4 linked regions of the Homo sapiens genome follow. The protein of the gene in region 4 purifies or fractionates together with the protein of the main gene of each other region. This does not show direct contact. Each region holds a gene or a part of one and is shown on either strand. Other genes may lie near its edges.

The links. The genes of interacting proteins can lie anywhere in the genome.
Region 1: the proteins of ACAD11 (region 4) and OSTM1 fractionate together in Homo sapiens (co-fractionation; one large-scale study listed by BioGRID). This does not show direct contact.
Region 2: the proteins of ACAD11 (region 4) and UBXN7 purify together in Homo sapiens (affinity purification with mass spectrometry; 2 studies listed by BioGRID, with this or other methods). This does not show direct contact.
Region 3: the proteins of ACAD11 (region 4) and ITGA3 fractionate together in Homo sapiens (co-fractionation; one large-scale study listed by BioGRID). This does not show direct contact.

Annotation. Positions count from the first base shown.
Region 1 is NC_000006.12:108,050,742-108,054,955, reverse strand, and holds part of OSTM1 (osteopetrosis-associated transmembrane protein 1 precursor), read left to right. Parts: intron 1-368; coding exon 369-466; intron 467-3,757; coding exon 3,758-3,925; intron 3,926-4,214. UniProt on the Homo sapiens protein: Required for osteoclast and melanocyte maturation and function.
Region 2 is NC_000003.12:196,369,928-196,374,141, reverse strand, and holds part of UBXN7 (UBX domain-containing protein 7), read left to right. Parts: intron 1-2,099; coding exon 2,100-2,246; intron 2,247-4,214. UniProt on the Homo sapiens protein: Ubiquitin-binding adapter that links a subset of NEDD8-associated cullin ring ligases (CRLs) to the segregase VCP/p97, to regulate turnover of their ubiquitination substrates.
Region 3 is NC_000017.11:50,068,896-50,073,109, forward strand, and holds part of ITGA3 (integrin alpha-3 preproprotein), read left to right. Parts: intron 1-1,948; coding exon 1,949-2,035; intron 2,036-2,415; coding exon 2,416-2,623; intron 2,624-3,090; coding exon 3,091-3,287; intron 3,288-4,214.
Region 4 is NC_000003.12:132,575,708-132,580,771, forward strand, and holds part of ACAD11 (acyl-CoA dehydrogenase family member 11), read right to left. Parts: intron 3,852-5,064; coding exon 3,785-3,851; exon of another isoform or gene 3,175-3,784; coding exon 3,089-3,174; intron 1,309-3,088; coding exon 1,237-1,308; intron 220-1,236; coding exon 65-219; intron 1-64. UniProt on the Homo sapiens protein: Acyl-CoA dehydrogenase, that exhibits maximal activity towards saturated C22-CoA.

The DNA.
Region 1 (4,214 bases), on a different chromosome or scaffold from region 4:
CATATGAGTTTCGGTAAAATTAATGCAGGGTAAACAGTCTTATGCCTAAATAGCACTGTTAAGGCAGCATTTGATAGCTGATATTCCGTGATTATGACCTTGTGCCATCAAAAGTCCATTTGAATTTTATTTGGTATATTTTTATGAAAAGAGAGTATGTGATTATTTTAACATGTTCATGAAAATGGTTATGACTTTTTTAACTTTTGGAAAATAAAAGGAGTAAGCTTCATATATTTGGAAAATTCATGCTTGTTTGAATAAAGAATTACTGTAGTGTGAAACGAAGCTGATAGCTTAAGATATAAATGACAACATAGAATTGTTCCTTGAGTTATATTAATATACTTTTTGAATTTTTTTGACAGATTGTTTAACAAACAACAGTGAAGAATTATCAAACAGCACAGTATATTTCCTTAATCTATTTAATCACACCCTGACCTGCTTTGAACATAACCTTCAGGTATTTTATATATAATATTTAAAATTAAAATGCTGCCTTGTACAAAGGAATAATGTGCAGTTCCAAGTTTTTAGAGCACTAATTATTGATATTTATCTAAATTCATGATGTAAAGGAGTTAGTGGACCTGGATTTCTGCTCTTAAGTAAGTTCTTCTACTTACAAATCATGAAAACCTCAGTTCTCTCATTGTAAAATGGAGATAATATCTATCCTGCCTATCTTAAAGTATTTTGTAATGAGAATCTGGTGAGATAATGATTGTGAAAACATTGATTGAGGTGTGTGATTGTTTAATTAAAACACAATGGTTTTCAATCTGACTTACGTAGGTATTTTGCAGTGTAGTATGATTCTGTCTATAGGAAGTTTATTCTTTGCCTGAAATTTGCTTAAGTATGTTTTACCTACCTTAAAAAGCACTGTTTAGTAAGATAACTTTGAGTATTGAATTATGATAATAAAAGGTAGCTTTAAGAATCTTAACCTTGTAGATTATTGCCATCTCTATCTCTGACTCTTGAATTTTGGTATTGGAACTTGCCCGGTCGTGGTGAAGGACGAGGTTGGAACTCTGGTTAAAATGTAGTTTTGAAACTTACATAACAAGTAAGTAATCCCCATAGTAGATGTACACATGCTTAGGGTATAAGCATGTATGATTTCTTCTGTAATAAATGTGGTAACACTGAATTATGAATTTCCTTGAGAATAATAAAAATTGGGCCAGGTGCAGTATCTCATGCCTATAATCCCAGCACCTTGGGAGGCCAAGGCAGGCAGGTCACTTGAGGTCAGGAGTTCGAGATCAACCTGGCCAATATGGTGAAACCCTGTCTCTACTAAAAATACAAAACTTAGCCAGGCTTGGTGGTGCACGCCTGTAGTGAAGTAGAGGTTGCAGTGAGTTGAGATCGTGCCATTGCACTCCAGCCTGGGCGTTGCAGAGAGACTCTGTCTCAAAAAAATAAAATAAAAAAAATTAGGTGAACATTTCTCAGAATTTGTTCTGCAGCATGTTAATAGATGTCCTATCAGAAAGGGTTTAGTATTCCATTAAGGTTGGGAAATGCTTTACTACAGGACTTCAGAGCCTTTAGTGGACTGATGTGTGTTGTAACACTCAAATAGCAATTTTTCTATAAAGTCATCCCTTTTATATATGGCTTCACTTTCCACAGTTTCAGTTACCTGTGGCCAACTGCAGTCCAAAAATATTAAATGGAAAATTCTGGAAATAATAAGTTTTAAATTGTACACCATAAACAGTCTTCTTTTCATTTAACTTAGAGTACTTGTATGAGTTTGGTAGATTTCTAGAAGTAGAATTACTATATTGGCAGCCTAAGAAAAAGACACTAGAGAAAATTATCTCCAAATATGATGAGTTTATTAGGGAATAAGAAAGAAGTATGGTAATTTGGAATGCACTGGCAAACCACCAGTACATCCAGTGAGGGAAGGGTAAAGGGAAGCTTTTATTAGCAAAAAGGGAGAGGTTCACACAAGCTGCTTGGAAACTGAGTTCATTGGTTCCTGAGGCTCAAAGCCAAGTTGTCAGTTCATTGGTGGCGATGCCATTACTGGGCAAGTGTTCTTTTGAGTGCATCTTATCTGAATTACTGCAGTCCTAAAGAATGGCAGTGATAAACCATGTGAAAGCAGGAGTTGCAATGAAGGGCGTGAAAGGATTTCTTGTGGGGTTTTTAGAAAGTCTTTGGAAACAAGGACTCTTTTTGTCTCTATTTTGTCTTGGTCTGTCAAAAGGTGATTTCATCCTAATGTCTGCAACTTTCACATTATTAAAAGATATGTGCATTTTAAATTTGAATAAAAATTGTGGCCAGGTATGGTGGCACCTGCCTGTAATCCCAGCACTTTGGAAGGTTGAGGTGGGAGGATCATTTGAGCCCAGGAGTTAGAAATTAGCCTGGGCAAAATAGCAAGACCGTGTCTCAAAAAAAAAAAAAAAAAAAAAGGTTAAATTACTCCCCATCTAGATTATGTGCACAATTTTAGTTAAATGGATTATGTGCTCAATTTTTTTTTTTTTTTTTGAGACGGAGTCTCGCTCTGTCACCCGGGCTAGAGTGCAGTGGCGCGATCTCGGCTCACTGCAAGCTCCGCCTCCCGGGTTCACGCCATTCTCCTGCCTCAGCCTCCCAAGTAGCTGGGACTACAGGTGCCCGCCACCACGCCCGGCTAAGTTTTGTATTTTTAGTAGAGATGGGGTTTCACCGTGTTAGCCAGGATGGTCTCGATCTCCTGACCTTGTGATCCGCCCACCTCGGCCTCCCAAAGTGCTGGGTTTACAGGTGTGAACCATCGCGCCCAGCCCTGTGCTCAATTTTTAACTAAGTGCACAATTGTTCTGTGAAAAACAAGCAATGGGCTATTTCTTGTAGCAGACTAAGGAGAGACTTAGTTTTTCTGTCAAGCAGATGGTGAGGGTAACATTGTTGGGCCAACATCAGTGTAATTACTTTGATTTTTCTCTTTTCTCTTTCATCCCAATGTTCAGTTAATATTCTTTCTTCATACTACAAAGTAAAGAATAAAGGGCATAGAAAGCAAAGGTGTGAACTGACTGTTTAGCAAACTTATTCTTGAAAAGACAAGTGTCAGTCTAGAAGTACAAAATATTGAGATTTAGTAGCATAATATTTTATGTACCTCCACTATCCTCATTTTAGGTTATACAATTCTTTGGTATTTGGCCCTTTTTGTTGACTAGAAAGGCCTGGATTATGAGCCTTGTGATAAGAGAGTTGAGTGGGGATGCAGTTTTGGTGCCTTTTCCCTTTCCATTTAAAAAGTTCTGTCTCAGTAAGATAAACTATGGTGTTCAAGTCAGCATAGGCAGGAACCTATTTTATTTATTCAGTGAGAGTAGGATAGATAAGTGAGGGTTTGTGATGATGAGATAATTTAGGAAATTTTGTATTTAGTTACTAGTCATTTGGCATATGAATTATTGTTATCCTCAGTTAACATTAGCTAATGCAGCAGTTTTGAAAATTTAGAGGCACCTAGAAAGTTCCAAACAGTTTGCCATCTGCTTCACATACCGGGTCTCTAATCCTTCGGACTTATAATACAGGTAGAGGTCGTTTTATTTTATAGATGATAAAACTGAGACTCAGAGTGATTTAGTAACCTACTCAACATCACAGCTTAGCACTTTAACACACCATATTGTTTCCCGTCTTCTAGAAGCGTAAATAGCTTACATTAAAGAGATATTGTATATAATGTTTATTGTATATATTACATGTGCCTTTGTCATTTTAGGGGAATGCACATAGTCTTTTACAGACAAAAAATTATTCAGAAGTATGCAAAAACTGCCGTGAAGCATACAAAACTCTGAGTAGTCTGTACAGTGAAATGCAAAAAATGAATGAACTTGAGAATAAGGCTGAACCTGGAACACATTTATGCATTGATGTGGAAGATGCAGTAAGTACTTTGCTTCTGATGTGATACATATTTTAGAGTGTTATTGAATGTACCTTCAGTATGATTATTATTTTTGGTGATAGGGTGGAATCTGCATATTCTGTCCTCAACCAAAAATAACTAGTTATAAAGTAGTAAAGTTTTAGAATATCCTGGTCTGTTAAACCAAAATGGATATTTCCTTAGTAGTCTCATGGTTAGGATAAAAATAAAACAGAAATTAATTAGGTACTTCATAAGTGAGTTGATGCTTTGGTACATTTTAATCTTTTTAAATTTGAAAATATGT
Region 2 (4,214 bases), about 64 Mb from region 4:
CTAGAACGTATGGTCATTTTTCCGTTTATTTTCAAATACTGTTTCTGTAGTTAAAGCAGCTTAATTATTCATTTATCATTCACTTTTTAAATCTTTGTCCTATAAGGAAGTAAATGGAAATATTACTTCCTATAAGCAAGGAATTATTATATTTGTATATTTTAAAATAAGCCTTTGACCAGTTAAATGCGGCTTCCTGGCTCAATATGAGGATATTTCTTTTTAGACCTTGGGTTTTCACCCATGGAATCAGTAAGCAAATATTAGAAGATAATTTATTCTGGGGCTGAGTGGGGTGACTGACACCTGTAATCCCAAGACTTTTGGAGGCCAGGGCAGGAGGATCATTTGAGGCTAGGTGTTCCAAACCAGCCTGGCTAACATAGTGAAACCCCTGTCTCTACAAAAAATATAAACAACAAAAAAAGAAAATAATTTATTCTGGGGGATTCATACAAAAAAAAAGCTATTTGTGAGATGATGTAGACCTTCTTAAAACAGAAGATATTCTCAGTCTCACATTTTTCAGTACCCACAAAATGATGTCCAGTATGTTCTTGGATTGTTATTACACCAAATTCATTGATTCTTAAGATTTTCCCATGTCACACTGATTTGGAAAAGAATACTGTTCTAGGATAAATTTATTCCAAAACTGTGGTTTCGTGTCACTGTTCTTTCCTAGGCAAAGATTTGAGGCAGCATTTGCTTATTTGCTTTTCTGCCATTGTTTTCCACTCAGCAGCATTTCATGGGTCTTTATGCTGACAAGGGACTGACAGGCAAAAAGTACGCACTAACGATTGATGTATCGATATCTGTTGTACGAATCGTAGAGTTGTTTGGGGATCATTCTCAAACATTCTTTGACCTTGTAATCCCAATTTTTGGAATCTACTCCTAGGAAGACAACTCTTAAGAGAAAAAACTCTCAGCAGTTTTTACTAAAATGTTTAGGGTGATTCTCCAAAACAGCATATATGCCTAATAACTGAGATTAATATGATGTTTAAAAATGTTCCAGAAATGATGTTGAAGAAAACAAAGTAAAATATACACACCAATTGCATTCATTAAAAAGAAGTATAATTGGCTGGGCGCGGTGGCTCACGCCTATAATCCCAGCACTTTGGGAGGCTGAGATGGGTGCGTCACCTGAGGTCAGGAGTTTGAGACCAGCCTGGCCAACATGGTGAAACCCCGTCTCTTTACTAAAAATATATAAAAAATTAGTCAGGCATGGTGGCACACACCTGTAATCCCAGCTACTCGGTAGGCTAAGGCAGAAGAATCACTTGAACCTAGTAGGTGGAGGTTGTAGTGAGCCGAGATCGTGCCATTGTTCTCCGACTTAGGCAACAAGAGCAAAGCTCGTCTCAAAAAAAAAAAAAATTGTTGATGGAGGTTGCAAGAGAATAAAATTACGTGACTTGTTGATCTTAAGTTTGTTGAATCCTTTTCAGGTAAAGATGTTTAAACATACATTAAAAATTCAGCCATTACCGGTCATGATGAGTCACACCTGTAATTCCAGCACTTTGGGAGGCCAAGGTGGACGGGTCATTTGAGGTCAGAAGTTCGAGACCAGCCTGGCCAACATGTTGATACCCCATCTCTACTAAAAATACAAAAATCAGCCAGGCGTGTTGGGGCACGCCTTTAATCCCAACTACTTGGGAGGCTGCGGCGGGAGAATCACTTGAACTCAGGAGGTGGAGGTTGCAGTGAGCCGAGACTGCCCCACTGTACTCTAGCCTGGGCAATAGAGTTAGACTCTGTCTCAAAAAAAAAAAAAAAAGAAAGAAAGAAAGAAAGGAGAGAGAGAGAGAGAGAGAGAGAGAATCAGCTATTATAACAAATAACTGGATAAAAGAGAAATGAGTTCATTTAAATTTGAGCAGTGCTTGAAATGGACAGTATAGCTATAAATGCATATGCGAAGTAAATATATAGAATGTATAAATGCTGAAAACTCTAGATGTCGTATCTGGCAAAAACTTAGTATTTTTAATGAAAGACAACAACCTCTGAACAACTACGGAAACATCTGTCACTAAGTAGAAATTATTTCTAACAAATGTGTAACTTTACTCTTGCAGGCCAAAGAGTGTGGCCAGATGCAAAATAAGTGGCTGATGATAAACATTCAAAATGTTCAAGACTTTGCATGTCAGTGCCTCAACCGCGATGTGTGGAGCAACGAAGCTGTGAAGAATATTATCCGGGAACATTTCATTTTCTGGCAGGTGAGAAGGAGAGTTAATCAGAAGTTTTGTAGAATTTTACTTTTGTAGTGTGGGTTGTTGAGGGAAAGGAATTGGGTTATAATGAATTAAGACATTTAAAAAAAGGTAAAGCCGGCTGGGGGCAGTAGCTCACGCCTATAATCCCAGCACTTTGGGAGGCTGAGGCCGGCGGATCACCTGAGGTCAGGAGTTTGAGACCAGCCTGGCCAACATGGTGAAACCCTGTCTCTCCTAAAAATACAAAAAATCAGCCAGGTGTGGCAGCAGGCACCTGTAATCCCAGCTACTCGGGAGGCTGAGGCAGGAGAATCACTTGAACCCGGGTAGCGGAGACTGCAGTGAGCCAAGATCACACCATTACACTCCAGCCTGAACAATAGAGCTAGACTCCATCTCAAACAAAACAAAACAAACAAACTGTACTGTTCAGTAGAAATATATTGTAAGCTGTACACATAATTTAAATTTTTCCAGTAGCCACATTAAAAAAGATTAATCAAAATAGATGAAATTAACTGTAATAATGTATTTGGTTAAATCAATATATCTATATAACTAATACAAAAATAATGAGATGATCTGCATTTATTTGGTGTTGAGTCTTCAAGATATGGTTTGTATTTTATACTTACACCCCTTCTCCATTTGGAGTAGCAAGATTTCAGGTGCTTCAGTAGCCACTTGTGGGTAGTGGTTGCTGTATTAGACAGTGCAGGTATAGAAGATCTTGAGGTAATTGGAAGCATTTGGCTAAGACTTAGATTTTAGCTTGAGTTTGATACTTTTTAACTCTGTGTTCTTAGACATGTCACTTTAGTCTTCCCAGCTAATGAGATAAGGTTACAGACCTTGTATCATTTTTCCCCCACTGTGAGACAGGGTTTTGCTCTGTCACCCAGGCTGCAATGCAGTGGCATGAACATGGCTCAGCCTTGACCTCCTGGGCTCAAATGATCCTTCCACCTCAGTTTCTTGAGTAGTTGGGACCACAAACATGCACCACTATGCCCATATAATTTTTTTTTTTTTTTTTTTTTTGTAGAGATGGGGTCCTGCCATATTGCCCAGGCTCGTCTCGAACTCCTGGGCCCAAGCCATCTGCTTCCCTTGGCTTCCCAAAGTGCTGGGATTATAGGCATGAATCACCGTGCCGGCTCAATTTTTTTATTTTTTATTTTGTGAAAAGTTATAGAAAATAAAAACTTATGAAGGAGCTTAATTTTTTCCCCTACTGTAAGATATGCTATTAATGTTATTAATTTGCCTGTTTATATTTTACAGGCCCCTAAATTTAATGTAACTTTAATGGTAAAATTCCTTGTATTTTATTCAACAAATATTGATCGAGCAGCTCTTTGCTTAGCACTGTGCTGGACTCTTGAGCTTATAATCTTTTTTTCTTTCTTTCTTTTCTTTTCTTTTTTCTTTTTTTTTTTAAATAAATGGACAGGGTCTTGCTCTGTCACCCAGGCCGGAACACAGTGGTGCAGTCATAGCTCACTGCAGGCTCTAACCCCTATAGGCTCAAGGGATCTTCCCACCTCAGTCTCCTGAGTTGCTGGGACTATAGGTGCACACCATTAAACCTGGCTAATTTAAAAACAAACAAACAAACAAAAAAAAACAAAAAAACTTCTCGTGGAGATGCCCAGGCTGGTCTCAAACTCCTGGCCTCAAGCTGTCCTCTGCCTCTGCCCTACAAAGTGCTAGGGTTATAGGTGCGAGCCACCATGTGGAGCCATAATCTTTTTTTTTTTTTTTTTTTTTTGAGACAAGTCTTGCATTGTCGCTGGGCAGGAGTGCAGTGGCACGATCTCAGCTCACTGCAGTCTCTGCCTCCCGGGTTCAAGCGATTCCCCTGCTTCAGTCTCCCGAGTAGCTGGGACTACAAGCGCCTGTCACCAGGCCCGGCTAATTTTTGTATTTTAGTAGAGACGGGGTTTCACCATGTTGGCCAGGATGGTCTCA
Region 3 (4,214 bases), on a different chromosome or scaffold from region 4:
GGAGTGCAGTGGTGCAATCTCGGCTCACTGCAAGCTCCACCTCCAGGGTTCACGCCATTCTCCTGCCTCAGCCTCTTGAGTAGCTGGGACTACAGGTGCCCGCCACCATGCCCGGCTAATTTTTTTGTATTTTTAGTAGAGACGGGCTTTCACCGTGTTAGCCAGGATGGTCTCAATCTCCTGACCTCGTGATCCGCTCACCTCGGTCTCCCAAAGTACTGGGATTACAGGCGTGAGCCACCGCGCCCAGCCTAATCATTCTTAAAATACTCTTATGAGGCAAGTATTATTATATCCATTTTACAAAAACAAAAACTAAGACTTAGAGAAGTAAATTGCCCAAGGCCAACAAAGTTATGAAACCTGGATTGGAATACAGGTCCATCTGACTTCAGTTTAACCATTTACAAACTAATTCTAAAAATAAAACATGCTCCTGGTACAACCACTACATAGTACAGTAGGCAATGTCCTATAATAATAGTTATCGCCAGGTGCAGTGGCTCATGCCTGTAATCCCAACACTTTGGAAAACTGAGGTGGGAGGATCACTTGAGCCCAGGAGTTCAAGACTAACGTGGGCAACGTAGGGAGACCTTGTCTCTACAAAAAATTTAAAAATTAGCCAGGTGTGGTGGCACACACCTATGGTCCCAGCTACTCAGGAGGCTGAGGTGGGAGGATCGCTTGGGCCCAGGAGGTTGAGGCTGCAGTGAGCTGCGATTGTGCCACTGTCCTCCAGCCTGAGCAGCAGAGCAAGACCTTATCTCAAAAAACTAAATAAATATCGCTACTTTCTCTCTTTCTCTTATCAAAAGTCATGGGCACTTTTTCATGTTGATATATATAGGACCATCATTTTAGAGGATGAAGGGTATTTTCTTGTAAAAGACCATGCTTGTAAAAGACCACACTACACATGGTCTCACAGGGGGTGTCTGACAGCTTATACTCCCTCCATCTCTTTGCCTCCCTCCATCACACAGGTTGTAGCAATAGGGACCCCTTTTCCCTTACTGAACCTTTATTGTTGTAGAATCAGCAGGCAGAGGAGCCTTGAATCTCCTCTTGACCAACATGTAGCCCCAGGCATAGTCACAGCTCTGGGCTCACCGAAGGCTGAGGCCTCTGCCCCCTCTTCTGGTCCTGCCTCCCACCCCCTGGTCATGTAGCACCTTGGCAAAGTCACAGATACTCTCCAGCAGCAGCCCTGGGTGCAGGGTCCAGCTAGGCAGCCCGAGTTTGGGGTCAGGACCAGAAAGAGATAATGGTGTGGAGTCTGACCTCAGTGTCTAGAGAGTGGGGAAAGCCATCTAGCATCTAATATCCAGGAGCCTGAGTGATTAAGTTCTAGCCATGGCTCTACAACCAGCTCCCCATGGGACTATGAGCAAGTCAACTTCCCTCCTGAGCCTCACTTATCTGCAAAATGGGGGTCATAATTTAACCTCAAATAATTGTTATAATAGGCCAGGCACAGTGGCTGACACCTGTAATCCCAGCACTTTGGGAGGCCAAGGCAGATGGATCACTTGAGGCCAGGAGTTTGAGACCAGCCTGGCCAACATGGTGAAACCTTGTCTCTACTGAAAATACAAAAATTAGCCGGGCATGGTGGCGCATGCCTGTAATCCCAGCTACTCGGGAGGCTGAGGCAGGAGAATCGCTTGAACCCAGGAAGCGGAGGTTGCAGTGAGGCAAGATCACACCATTGCACTCCAGCCTGGGCAACAAGAGCAAGACTGTCTCAAAAAAAAAAAAAAAAAAAAAAAAGGAAAAAAGAATTGTTAAAGAGGATGTGTTTTATAAATGGCAAAATGCTCACCAATAAAAGGGGTTATTACTATCCTTGTTGGGTGGGGGTGGGGGTGGGCTGGACATGGTAGAGGAAACCAGAAACCGGTGGTGACTTATACTCCCTACTCTCCCTCCCTCAATCCCTGTGAAGGAAACAGCTACATGATTCAGCGCAAGGAGTGGGACTTATCTGAGTATAGTTACAAGGACCCAGAGGACCAAGGAAACCTCTATATTGGTGAGTACAGTAGTGGTAGCCCATCAAGTGGTAGAGGGGAAGGGGGCTTAGTCCCTGGTGGAAAGGTGAGGCCAGAGTGCAGTTGTGACTAATGGCATTTAGTTAAACTAGCACACACGGATTGGCCGGCACCTGTATGCCAGGCCCTGTTCCAAGCTCCCAAGATGCAAAGTTCTTGACTTCAGGATGCTCACAGTCCAGTGTCCAGGCAGAACTGGGCCATGGCTGCTGGCCATCTGGAGTCTACTTTCTTGCCCTACTTGGAATAGTGGGATAGAACATCATGGTGGGGGGCAAGAGAGGGAATAGGGAGATGGGTCCAGAGTAGAAAGAGACGAAGTTGACTGGGACCTTGGTTGAACATCTTCCCTCTATCCCAGGGTACACGATGCAGGTAGGCAGCTTCATCCTGCACCCCAAAAACATCACCATTGTGACAGGTGCCCCACGGCACCGACATATGGGCGCGGTGTTCTTGCTGAGCCAGGAGGCAGGCGGAGACCTGCGGAGGAGGCAGGTGCTGGAGGGCTCGCAGGTGGGCGCCTATTTTGGCAGCGCCATTGCCCTGGCAGACCTGAACAATGATGGGTGAGAATCTAGGGACATCCTCTGGGGCCAGGGAGAGCGATGGGCGGGGGAAGGCTTACCTAAGCCAGGTGAGGGGAGTGGAGGATTTGCAGTTGTGCGGCTGTCTGCATGTTGTTTGCAGAGGTTTGCAGTCAGGCTTTATGGGAGTCTGAGCACCTGCACATGGCATTTGTGGGACCCCTGCGTTTGCTTGTTTCTGCTTGGGATTTGTATGCTCCAGTGGATGTGGATTGTTTGGGTTTGATTTGTGCCTGCATGGCGTCTCCATGACATATGTCTTCTATTTGGTGGGTCATATTGGCATCTCCATGTCCTTCCCATGCACATGTCCTTCCCACCCATGACCTGTGGCCGGAAGAGCCATTTGCAGAGCCCTGTGCCCTGGCACAGTCACACCTGTCAAACAAGAACTATGCTGCATATTGGAGGCTGACCTCACACTCCCATTTCCCTCCTCTCCTGTGTAGGTGGCAGGACCTCCTGGTGGGCGCCCCCTACTACTTCGAGAGGAAAGAGGAAGTAGGGGGTGCCATCTATGTCTTCATGAACCAGGCGGGAACCTCCTTCCCTGCTCACCCCTCACTCCTTCTTCATGGCCCCAGTGGCTCTGCCTTTGGTTTATCTGTGGCCAGCATTGGTGACATCAACCAGGATGGATTTCAGGGTATGAGCCAGCACTCCTCCCCCAGCACCCCTCCTCCAGCACCCCTCCTCCCAGCACCCCTACTGACTGAGCACCAGCTGCACATCAGGCTTGACAGGGCCCACAGATGAGACAGGATGGGGCCGGACCTGGGGAGCTCGCAGCAGTACTAGAGAGAGGATGTGCAGATGTGCAGAGGAAGCACAGAGGCAAGCTCAGTGGGCCTCCTGGAGGAGCTTGCATGCCACTGTGCAGCCAAGGCTGGGCTGAGAGTGCACAGTAGAGAACTGATGGGGCACAACATGGGTGTGGAAACTGGCCTGGTGTGCCCAAATCTAGCGGGTGTAGAGTGTTCACATCAGAGAGGAGGCTGGAGGGGGAGTGGGGTGGGGTGGGGTGAGGATGGATGCTTTGAAAGCCAGGCAGAGTATCTTAGGGATTTATATTTGGGTAATGGTGATGGTGGGGTCATGGGGCATCCAGAGAAAGTTTTAGGGCAGGGATGTGATATAATAACTTTGTACCCTGAAGGATGATTCTGGAAGGGGTATGGAATGAGTGATTGCAGGGATGGAGCAAGGCCAGGGGAGTTAAGATCAAGAATGTAATATCTCAGGTGGGAGATGATAAGGAATGGGACAAGGTGGGAGCCCTGGATATAGGGGTCCTCATAAGTGTTCTGCAGGACTTGGGGACCAATCGGACCTGGGGTATCAGGGACAGGGGCAGACCCAGGGCTGGAGTCAGTGCCATGGGGGCACCTGGCTTATCTGAAAGTCACTTCTCTGATAATCTCAGTTTCCCAGGACATAGCTGAGAACCAAGAGGAAGGCAAAGGAGCCTCTGAAGACCCAAAATAGGTGCCAGAAAGTTCAGTCACCAGAGGCCAAGTGTGCACTGTGGAAATCATTTGGTTTCGGCCTGGGACCTGCTTCTGCTCCCTTTACA
Region 4 (5,064 bases):
TTTTTGTTCAATGTTAGTGTAGTGCACCGGGCTACAATAAATTCAAATAAGTAATCGTCCTCACATGTGCATACAACTTCTTCTTGAAAGCTATCCTTTGTGTTGCCCGCTCACACATGATCTGCAAAGCGCGTTCCGCCAAACCTACTGTTCTCATACAGTGGTGGATTCTGCCAGGTCCAAGGCGGCCTTGGGAAATTTCAAATCCCCTACCTTCACCTGGGAAGAAAGGGGAAAAAAAGGGGGAATGTGAAAATGGCCTAGCCCATTCCTTTTGTTATTTATACAAATCCTGGGAAAGAGATGAGCTGCCCTTAATAAAAATGGCTTTCTAGTGAAAAAAAGTCAGTTCTATAATAAGGTTCACTATGAATTCATGGGAATTTTGATTTCTATGTTTTTAAAACCACCACCATTAAACATTTCAAATTTCAGAACTGTCTCTTAAGTATGTACTATGCATAAGCTATTTTATTAATGCTGCAATAGATACAAAGTTGGAATAACACATAGTCCCTGTACTAGGAGTTTAGAATCCAGAAGAGTGGGTAAGGGTAAGAGATACAGAGAGAAACAAAGGCAAAGGAAGAAGAGATTTTCTGTTCATCATTATAACCTCAGGGCCTGGCAGGTATCAGGGGCCTGGTGAATGGATGGGATGAACACAAAAACATTCCTGGAAGAGGTGGTATTCTAGATGTTCTTTGAAAGGGATATAGTATTCTAATAAGCAAGAGGATGGCATACAGTGTTCAAAGTTATTTATGCTTCTAACTTATATCTAATACTTGAATTCATAAAGTACTGAGGTTTTCTTAAAACAAATAGAGGCCTACAGATCATGTTCTAGGAGAAAGTGTATTGCTCTGAATTATATAATTTTCATATTATCTTTTCAATTGATGTGATATAGAAAACCACATCCAACACTTAAATAAAACCTCACCATTCCATGTAAGAAAATCCGCCAAACAGAAAACTTTCCCTTGACAAATGGAGTAAACAAGAAGGGAAAGTATTAGGTTGGTGCAAAAGTAATTGCGGCTTTTGCCAAAAACTGCAATTACCTTGGTGCAAAAGTAATTGCAGTTCAAAAACCGCAATAACTTTTGCACGAACCTAATATCTAAATCAAGGTAGACTTCAGGTCTAAATCTGGAAAGACTTATCTTTTCCAGATTTAGAGCTGAAATATTAATGTACAATACTGAAGAATCATTTCCAAATTCAACTCACCTAGTATTAGATTTGTGGCAGGAACTCGCACTTGATTAAAATGGATCTCAAAATGTCCTCCATGAAAATTATCTATAAAATAGAAAATAAAATTTAGAGCAAAAGGAGTTGACTAAAAAAGAGTCACATATTCTTAATCTGCTGAAATATAATTACTTGAAGAAAATAGGATTTCAAAGATCCATATGGCATGAACATTCTGAGGTAAGCCTCAGCCCTGAACCCCAGGACCCAGCAGCCCAGAAAACTCATCAACTGTTCAAGAAGAGAAACCCTTTGATCCAGATGTTTTCTAATTCATTCTCTGAAGTACAATTTCAGAGAGCTAGGAAAAAGGAAGACCAGGCTCCATAGATCCAGCCAGAGTATTTTATTTGTTTTATTATTGCTGCTTCTTTGAAATATTTTACATATGGGGTTCCAAACAATTTGCATGGAAAAAAGTTTCAATGTTTCAAAAATTAAAAATGAGTAATGTAATCCATGTTTCTTATTTTATCATTGTGGAAACCAACGCCTAAAGATGACAGGGGCCTGCTTGAGGGGAAAGAGCAGGCTTGGCATTAGTGATGATACAGAAACTAGACCTTCAGGTAGGTTTACTCCCAGTCTAGACTTGTTCCACTGTGTGTTCGTCTCTTGAAAATACTGGCATTTGAAACACTGAGGCCAGGAACACGTTCACATTTTATCTTTGCATCACCCCTTCTCCCTGCCAAGTTTTAGAGATAATCTCATGCTAACTCTACACCCTTTTCCTGTCAGAGGAGACAATAATCAGCCTTCTCCACACTGTTTCTTTTGGCCCTGGACACAGGGAGTTGGAGAGGTGCTAGTAAAGTTTTCATACTGAATAATCAAATGTAGCCTCTGCAATGGAAATTATTTGCAGCTCAACTATATTATAAACGCATTTTTGGTATCTTTGCGGCCGTTTCGCTGCAACCCAACAATTTCCTACATGCAATTTTCTCCAGCAAGCTTGCTCATCCCATCTTGCCACCTATGCTTACCCTGTGGGTATACTCTACAGCTGCATCTTAACTGATAAGTGATTCTATAAAACTGCAAGTCTTATATCTGCCACTTGAACATATTCATTAGTCATATTCAATGATAAAAAGAAAGCCAGGGGCTGGGCCCGGTGGCTCATACCTATAATCCCAGCACTTTGGGAGGCCGAGGAGGGTGGATTACCTGAGGTCAGGAGTTCGAGACCAGCCTGGCCAACATGGTGAAAGCCCGTCTCTACTAAAAATACAAAAATTAGCTGGGCATGGTGGCTAAGCAAATACTTGCTGAGAGGGTGATCTTAGCAAATATTTATTGTACACAATGAACACGTGCCACAGTAGGTGGCAGGAAACAAATGGATCTTTGCTTCTTAGAAGTCCCACCCAAGGGCAGAGGAAGGAAAATTTTGCACTCAAATAAGTCAAAAACTCATTGCTTTTTAACAGTTCTTGTAAGTTGATTGATTAAGAGGGCTAAAATTGGAGATAAAAATAATTTTATTGTGGATTATCTGTGCATTAATCCATTTTTATGAATGACAGAGAAAAGACTGGTAGTGTTGCTCTTCCTTAAATACAATCTGCCCTTTCCCAAAAAGGCAGAATTTATATTCTATAAATTCTATAATTTATATAATTATAAATTACATAAATGCTATACTATTTCTTTTTATTGGCTCTACTCTGAACTCCACCAGCATTTATATTAAGACAGTTGTCACAGACAAAGGAATATCTAAGAATCTATCTTATGCATTAAAATGCTATTGCCTTCAATGTTACTGCATATTCTAGCCTTCCTGCTTGCTAATGCATGGTCATATTTATTGGATACCTACCTGTGTAGCCAAAAACTGACAAAGGCCTTATTATTTTTACTCCAGGTGTGTTCATGGGAACAAGAATCATGCTGTGCTGTTTGTGTCTAGTCAAAAGAAAAATTGTATTAGAAAAAGTTTGCTAAGAAGAAAAATAAAACAGATAATAAGCAGAATCACAATTGTCTTTTTGATGTTTTCATGTAGTCATGTAAGCAGTGATGACTGGAATGGGAACTGTGTAAAAGACGTACACCAACATAGTCTGATGCAGGCTGTGATCTGGAACAGAAACAATGATTTGAAAATAAATGAGTTGTTTGATTGAAGCTTCTCACTGCTCAACAATGGTAACTGGGAACTTATATATATAATTAAACATTTCAAGATTATTGCCTTTGATCTAAACATCTAATCACTTCATTACACAGGTCTGAAAAAATTTGTCTGATAATTTAATCCAAACAGCTTTGATAATTTAGCAACACTTTCTAATACTGAAAATTCCACAGCGAAGAATGTTCAGCAATACTCCCTATAATGTTTTCCAAAAACACCTGTTAGAAAATACTTGTGAAATACAAATATATGACATTTACTCTCATATCTTACATTATGATTTGTGAGTCCAAACAGTGAATTTTAAGTAAATTACCTAGATAGGAGGAAGACTGGCTCATTCCTACACAGGTTTCTCAATCAGAATTGTTTAATTACCTGGAGAGAGAAGTATTTTGAGTTCTTCCCAAAACAATTGCAATTTTGCACTTGGGATTCCCAGCTCCTAAAACCAAGGGGAACACAAGCAGATTATAAAAGGAAATTTCTAGTTTGACATTTCACCTTGAAGGTTCTAATCCTTCCCACTTTACCTATGTCAGAAAACAAATAGAGAGAACATTCCTGATTCATTAAGATAATAATTCTTTTGTAACACTCTATATCATCCAAGAAAAATGATTAGGCAAGGCCAAGAATGGACCCCATCAATGAAAGCTGCTACACAAAAATAACCAGAAGTCAAAGCAGCATGAAAGAACTGCCACCTCTCCCATTTACACCATTTCAGACATCAGCATGCTAGAAAAGCTGAGAAATTTTATATGTCTAATATAATATTTTATATGTCAACGTATATGAGGCTGTGATCCCACTTTCAATAAGCCTGGTTCTTTTATTAATTTCTTAAGGGTCAAATTTTAAAAATATTTTTTCATTTTAATGCAAAATTTTATTTTATCACAGTTCAGGGGTCTGTGGCAATTGCCTACAAGGGTCTTTTTGCAAAAATTACTTTTAATGTTTACTAGTAAGTCTAGTCCCTTGGGAAAACTACCATTTGACTAGATTTTCAATTACAAGGCTGCACACAACTGGATCAGATTAAGTTAAACACATCTGTACAAAGTCTCAAACAAATGATCGGATTCTTTTTTCTGATTTATTATAAAAAGAGGTTTGAGGAGATTTGAAATCATATAAAGATTTAATGAGAAATGTTAGGAATGATGTCAAATAGTTGAATAATATTATAAAATTCCAGGAGTTAAAAGGATAAACTCCATGGAACATATTAAAGGACATTGCAGGAATGTAATCAGTAAAGTTCAGACTGTGGGAAATCTATAAGACAACTAATCCAGTTTCTTCAACAATTAAATTGCAATAAAAAGAAAAAAGAGAGATAGAGAAGTAGCTTGTAAGATCAAAAGAGAGAGACCTAAAAGGCGTATCAACCAACAGCAATTTTTAGACCTTACTTAGATCCTAATTCAATCAAACAAAATAAAAAGTATTAATGGTAATTATTAAGCAATTAGAAATGTGAATAGTTATTGGAAATGTCATGATATTAAGTAATTTTAGGTGTGCTAATGGTATTGTGGTTACATTTTTTAAAGAGCCCTTACAGAGACACATACTAAAATATTTGGGAAAGAAATGACATGATGTCTGAGATTTATTTCAAAATATTATGGGAAGAAGATGGGCAGAAG